Linked DNA regions of Homo sapiens. The protein of the gene in region 1 purifies or fractionates together with the protein of each later gene. This does not show direct contact. Each region holds a gene or a part of one and is shown on either strand. Other genes may lie near its edges. The genes, in order: TRPC1 and MX1.

The links.
Region 2: the proteins of TRPC1 (region 1) and MX1 purify together in Homo sapiens (co-immunoprecipitation; one study listed by IntAct). This does not show direct contact.

The regions. Positions count from the first base shown.
Region 1 is NC_000003.12:142,782,851-142,786,675, reverse strand, and holds part of TRPC1 (short transient receptor potential channel 1), read right to left. Parts: intron 1,973-3,825; coding exon 1,636-1,972; intron 1-1,635. UniProt on the Homo sapiens protein: Forms a receptor-activated non-selective calcium permeant cation channel. Forms a heteromeric ion channel with TRPC4 or TRPC5 that has reduced calcium permeability compared to the homomeric TRPC4 or TRPC5 channel.
Region 2 is NC_000021.9:41,439,660-41,443,484, reverse strand, and holds part of MX1 (interferon-induced GTP-binding protein Mx1), read right to left. Parts: intron 3,792-3,825; coding exon 3,637-3,791; intron 2,599-3,636; coding exon 2,460-2,598; intron 1,770-2,459; coding exon 1,571-1,769; intron 1-1,570.

The DNA.
Region 1 (3,825 bases):
TACTCAACTAGCAATACAAACATATTTCACATTGAAAGAGTCCCACAGTCCAATATAAAACCATATATGGTAAAGTTTAAATTATTTCCTAAATTAAAAGATTAAATTTTAGATAAGAGCAAAACTACAGGAAATAAAAATATTAACAAGAAGGAATTATTTAATTCTCTTTAACCTAGAGTTTAGATGTGTATTATTTTATCTACCTAATTTTAAACATTAATGCATCATAGATTAAATACTGTTAAAAGCAAAACTCTAATTACAATCTAGTTACCTGAAATTAACTGATTTTCAAATAAACATTCTAAAATATAAAAAGTATTTGTATAGCTAAAGAGCTAAAATTGAACATTGTGAAATAACTTATGAAAGTACTAAATAATTGAAACAATCAGGAATGTAGTAATCAAAAGATAAATACACTCAGTACTTTGTGCCATAGATAAGACTAAATTTTATTACCCTTTTACTCTATAGCAAATAGTAGACGGACAGATGGGAAGTGCTGAGGTTAAAAACAAGGTAGAAGATACAGAGGGAAATAAAGAAAATATCTTTAAAATACCATAAACAGATAATGTGATTCTACCTCAACTCTCCACACGCACCCCGACACACAGAAGGCAAGACGAGTAAAAATTGTAGAAGATGATTTAAGACATTTATTATACAGTGTAATACTTATAAAAATAATTTTCAGGAATAAAATGTCTTATACTTTTTAAAAAACTATCATTTCTAAAGAGATCTGGCTATCTCTACAAAGAAATGATTTATGGAATGAGTCACCAGGGACTCCTTTAAATCTAAATTTAAACAATGTTTCCAAAATAGAGATAAAGCAAGATATATCTGCAAAAGTTCATAGGTTCTAGGCCGGGCACGGTGGCTCAGGCCTATAATCCCAGCACTTTGGGAGGCTGAGGCAGGAGGATTACGAAGTCAGGAGTTCGAGACCAGCCTGGCCAATGAAGTGAAACCCCATCTCTACTAAAAATACAAAAATTAGCCAGGTGTGGTGGCACGCACCTGTAATCCCAGCTACTGGGAGGCTAAGGCAGGAGAATCGTTTGAACCCGGGAGGCGGAGGTTGCAGTAAGCCAAGACTGTGCCATTGCACTCCAGCCTGGGCGACAGAGCGAGACTCTGTCTCAAACAAAACAAAACAAAACAAAACAAAAACCAAAAAGCTCATAGGTTCTTAAAAGGAAAACTAATGTTATAAATGAAATAGAATAGTTAACTTTAAAAATGCACAACAGTATAAAATAGATTGTTTCAAAATACCTAAGAAAACTTCATATTCTTACACCAAAAAAGCATTCATGTGTTAAAGCTGATTTTCTGTTTTACAATCATGAATAACCATAGAGTCTGAGAATAAATAATTTTAAAATTCCATGTATTTAAGAAATATTAAATAAGAGAGATGCTTCCTTATCATCAAGTTCAGGAACATTTATCTTTACAGACATGTTAGTTAAGTCTTCAGTGATCATGGAAGTGTTCAAATTCTTGTGGTGTGAACAGTGTAAAATTGCAAATTGAACCCAATATTCACAATGCCATCAATCAAGAAAGAATCAGTGGGCTAAATAAAGACAAAACCTTTCAAACTAACTTGATACTTACCAATAATCCACAGAATAAGAAGATAGTCTATTCTTTCAAGGGCTGGCCCCATTGTGTTTTTCTTATCCTCATTGTAGACAAGAGAGTATAGATTAAGCAACAGCAGAAATGTGAAATATGATGCTCCATGAATGATAAATTTCATAAAAGGTGTGTGAATGATTCTGCCAAACTGAGATTTGGGAGCTATCAAATAACAAAGTGACAAAACTGGCCAAAAGATGCCTACTGTCAAAACAGTCATTATCTTCTTACAGGTGGGCTTGCGTCGGTAACCCGACATCTGTCCAAACCAAACAGTGTTCAGGAACTGCTGGCAGTTAGACTGGGAGACAAACTGAAAAGGACATACACACACATTAAAAAGAAAAAAAGTAAAAGGAAACCTTTAAATACTGATTGGTTGATATTCAAAGTTTACTGAATAAGAGTTTAAAAATCAATTCTATACATTCAACATAGTTTTGTTTTTTCCCTTTTTCTAACAATAAAAGCATGTAGAGGTTAAGAGGATAGACTATGGAGCCAGATTACCTAGATTCAAATCTGGGCTCTGCTACTTGGTAAATGACCTTTAACAAGTTTTTAAATTTCTCTAAGCCTCAACTTCCCCATCTGTAAAATGGGAATAATAATAGTATCTACTAATAAAGTTGTGAAGATTAAAGGTAAAGCCCTCAGAATAGCGCCTGGTTCATAGCATGCACTCTATAAGTATTAACTATTATTATTAGCTTACTTAGCCATTTTTTCATGTTTAATATATAAAAACTCATAATAATATTTATGAAATTTCAAAGTTATCATGCACAATCCATAGAAAAAGATACCACTAACTAATGTTGGACATCTTCAGTCTAGAGAAACTATTGATTTTAGTTACCAGAAGCCAAGAAGTCAAGATAGCAAAAACAATAAAAAGCTAAATATTAGACCTATTCTTGCTCCAAGAAAGCACTGCGGATTTCTTAAAAGGTATTAAAGACACTCTTAAGCCTGATTAAAACTGAATTTCATGTGAGAAGAAAGGAAAAATATTCCCAAATATGAGAAAAATTTTAGTTCAGGTACAGAAACTAATTTACCAAAGTTTACAAATCTTCTTAGTTGACAAATTTCATAGGCAATATTTTTCCAATATAATGCTCATGTTGTGAAGTATAACTTAAGGGTCCTGATAATTCTATATATACTCATGTGATCAGGTTTGAAATTATTATAAAATGACATTATTCAGGTAATCCACAATAATATTTGGTCAACCTTCTGTTTTAAAATGATTTATCCCAAAACAGAATATAATTTGTAGAATTAACACTGTAGTGAAAAAAAGAATTGGACAGAGTTTTGTTGTTTATTGTGCTTTCAAGAAAATTTCTAGTATACTGTAGAGTTGGCCCTCTGTATCTCTGTGTCCTACATCTGTGGATTAAACCAACCATGGATCAACAATATTTGGAAGAAAAAATTCACAAAGTTCCAAATAAGCAAAACTTGAATATTCTTCACAGCAAGTACTATGTTGAATCCACATGAATGAAATGATGTGTAGGCACTGTATTAGGTGTTATAAGTAATTGAAAGATACTTTAAAGTATATGGGAAGATGTGTGTATGTTATATGCAAATACTTATTTTTGGCAATACTTCATTCTTTACTCTTCTGCTCAGATTCCAATGTTCTTGGGAAATCTTAATTTGTCCCTCAAGGTGAAATGCCTGGGAGAGAAACAGCTTTTCCTCTCACCAATGACCAGGTTTAGTAAATCTCAAATTTAGTAGTGTCACCTTTCCTCCAAATATCAAAGCAATCTCAGGACTGATTACTGTCCTTGCTATCCCTCTATACAATGACAATTTAATTTGCAGTAATGTTAACTATGTATTTGGAATAAAAAGTTTAACTAGAAATGTTCTAAGTCTGCAGTGAAAGATGGACACGCTTTCTTCCCATCATCAAGAGGTGGGGAAGGAGGAAGTCAAAATTTCCTACTCTTCAATTCAACAGGCTTGTGATTGATTTAACTAGTAGATTCTAACAGAGGTGATGCTATGTGACTTCTGAAGGTAGGTCCTAAAAGGCTACGCATCTTCCACCTTGCTCACTGGAACACCTGCTCTTGGAGCCATGAACTACCATGTAAAAAGCCACTCTGAAGCCACCATGCTGTGAGGAAGCCCAGGCTGCAC
Region 2 (3,825 bases), on another chromosome or scaffold:
TTTTATAACACATACCCCCTTCTATGTGTAATATGTGTAGGTGATCATAATGGATACAGACATATCTTCATACAAATACATTGAAGCATATTGAGATAAATGGGTAGCAGAACACTGAGGAGAAGAGACACAAGATATCTTGTCCAAGATAAAAACTTAAACCATGGGCTGCCTGGAGGAAGGAAGTCAAGTATCTTCTCACTCGATCCAAATTTGTGCTCACAGAGTGAGTTATTACAGGGTTTCCCACATTTTATAGGACATTTTAGGATAAAGGCAGCAGTGAAGCATGAGTTTCTGTGCCTTTTTGTGAGTATACTCATACCTAAGCTTCAGTTTCTCTGTCAATTTTTCTAAATTGTGGTAAACTACATATAAAATTGACCATTTAACCATCTTTAAGAGTACACTTGAGTGGCATTAAGTACATTCACACTATTATGCAACCATCACCACTGTCTGTCTTCAGAACTTTTCATATTCCCAAACTGAAACAATGGCCCCATTAAACACTACCTGCCCATTCTCTCTCTCCCAGCCCCTGGTGCCCATCATTCTTTCTGTCTCTATGAATCTGACTACTCCAGGGACCTCAGCTAAGTGGAATCAGACAGTATCCGTCCTCTTACGACTGGGTTCTTTCACTTAGTAGAATGTTCCCAAGCTTCATCCATGTTGTAGCATGTGTCAGAATGTCTTTCCTTTCTAAGGCTGAAAGTATTCCATGTTTTTGTACAGACCACATTGCTTTCTGCATCCATCCATCAATGGACACTGAATCATCTCATCTTCTGGCAATTGTGAATGTGCAGAACAGGATGTAAGTTTCCATTTGATATTCCTGGAATTCTGAGTAATGGCTCTCTGTAGGCTTCTGGGAGAACTGAATGTAAGAATGTTTACAACTCTACATAGTCTCATCATTTTAAATCTTACCAATTTGTCAGTCTTTTCCTTTTAAAAAATGTCACTTTTGGTAGGAGGGATAGAAAAATCTTATAAACTATTCACCTACCTTTCTTCTGAGATGCTTATTGCTTCCTCTTAATATTTAACTTTAAACTTTAACTATTTTGGTATAATGAGATAAGTAAGGGCAGTATTTTAGTTTTTTCCCAAATATTAATTATCCTAACACCACTAATAGATACTCAAGCTGATATAGTCCACTATTTGATTTGAAATGCTGCATTTATCATGTGTCAAATATATATATCTAGGTCTATTTCTGGGCTTTCTACTTTTTTCCTATTCTCTTCTATTTATGTTTTTATAAAATATGGTTCCAGCACCATGCTACGTAAATTATTGTACATTGTTCTCTCCCTATTTTGATTGGTTTTTAGTTTTTTTTTTCTTGGCAGTATTTTGTAATCCCCTTCCTATTCTTCTAGGTGAATTCCATAGTCCTTGTTGGGGAACAAGCATAGTCACACACACACGCGCACACACACACACGCACACACACACACACACACTCCACACATCTGTGGGACGGCTGCCACTGTCCCCTGGAAGGCCTGACATCCTGGGCTTGGACTGATCCATGATGAAACCCAGGCAAGCGCACCTGAAATATGGGTGGTTCTCAAAGAAGATCTTCTCTCTCTGCAGGGCTTCGGACAGGCTCAGCTGGTCCTGGATCTCCTGCTGGCCCCGGCACTTGACAATCATGTAACCCTTCTTCAGGTGGAACACGAGGTTCCGCACCACGTCCACAACCTTGTCTTCAGTTCCTTTGTCCACCAGATCAGGCTTCGTCAAGATTCCTGCGAGCCAGATGTATTTGGGGAGAGAACGTGCTCAGTCACGAGGCAGAGGTGAACGAACAACTGCTCACGCCCCCGGCCTCCCAGGGTTTCCTCCCATCCTTGCTTGAGGACAGGCCATAGCCCCTGCAGAACCATGGGGGCAGTGGAGCCCCGCTCCAGAAAAGAACTCCACGACAAGCCGCGTGAAGGCAGGGATGCCTCCCAGAACAGCATGTGGCTCTCCCCAAGCTCCTTCACCCGGGTCCACTGTAGAACACGCCACGTTTTGTTTATCCCTTGAGTTATGGACATCCCATCTCAAATGCATTCTTAATGAGTACCATGTGCCTCCTGAGTTTGACCTGCTTCCGAGCCCACTGTGCCTTTCTGAGCAAGTAGATAAGGCTTACAAGGCAACCTAGCCAGTGAGAGTCAAAAGCAGCTCATTTCACTTGGCCTTGGTGGGCACCAAACCTGCTCCCTTAGCAGGTCTTAGTGGAGGCAGGTCCCCACTGAGCAAAGCCCATGGAGACTGGAGGGACGCTTGCCCACTGGCAGACCACCGAGCACAGGCGGGCTCCCCCATTCTCACCGAGCACAGGCGGGCTCCCCCATTCTCACCGAGCACAGGTGGGCTCCCCCATTCTCACCGAGCACAGGCGGGCTCCCCCATTCTCACTGAGCACAGTGGGGCTCCCCCACTCTCACCGATGGTCCTGTCTCCCTCGGGGTCCACCTCCTGGGCCATGCTGAGAGCCTCTGTGGTGGCGATGTCCACATTACTGGGGACCACCACCAGGCTGATTGTCTCCTGCCTCTGGATGTACTTCTTGATGAGTGTCTTGATCTGTAAGGAAATGAGAGGAGGTGACTCGTGAGTATGGCAAAGGCAAGTGAGAGGTGAGACAAGTCCTGACCTTGCACTTGCTTTAGGCCCTAAGAGTCCCAGGGGTATTTCCCCCAAAAGAAGTAACTTTGGAGAAATGAACCCACAAACACAACCCTGGAGGTACCAAGCTGGAATTATGAGAAAATAAATTATCTGTGGCAGAAGCAGAGCTATAGGCTCAGGGAAAACCATGAAGTTTCAGATAATTAACCCCTAAGACCTCAGATCTGATGGTCACAATGAAAAATGGTGGCCAAAAAACCCCACTTCACCCCTAAATCTTTAATCTGTAAAGTGAGATTCACTGATACTAAAATATCATTATACCTATTTCTTTCTTGCTTGTTTTGTTTTGTTTTTTGTTTTGAGACAGATTCTTGCTCTGTTGCCCAGGCTGGAGTGCAGTGGCACAATCACGGCTCATCACAGCCTCCCTGGTTCAAGCAATCCTCCTAGTAGCTGACAGGTGCACGCCACCATACCTGGCTAATTTTTTAACCTTTCTTTTATAGAGAAGGGGGTCTCACTATGTTGCTCAGGTTTCTGTCAAACTCTTGGGCTCAAGGAATCCTCCTGCCTCAGCCTCCCAAAGTGCTGGGATTATAGGACTGAGCCACTGTGTGTGGCCCATTATACTTATTTTTAATGCTCTCTTCCCACATAAGACCCCTTCCTAATACACAGCACTTTAGATATGCTGCAAAATGTATATAACCAAAAACAAGTCATTGCATAAAACATAAAACAAATACACAGAACACATTTCCAACTGTGCCCACTGGCCTCACTTTCTCCAAAGAAGCTTCCATTCAACTTGACAGAACAGACTGTGACCAACGGGCTCTCTAAATTCCCCACTCACACCTCCAAATACTAACTCCAAAACTCAGCTCTGGACTCACGGTTACTCTAATACAGTACCCTCTTTCTCCTCCCACCCCTCCACTCCCCCATCCCCACGCCACGGCCAAGGTCAGAATGGGTCTGAAGTCTGACCTTATACCCAATGTCAGCAGGCTGATTGCCCACAGCCACTCTGGTTATGCCAGGAAGGTCTATTAGAGTCAGATCCGGGACATCTCGGGAGCTGATCTCCAGGGTGATTAGCTCATGACTGATTCCCATTCCTTCCCCGGCGATGGCATTCTGGGCTAGAAAAGAGACAGGGAAAATCAAACCCAAACA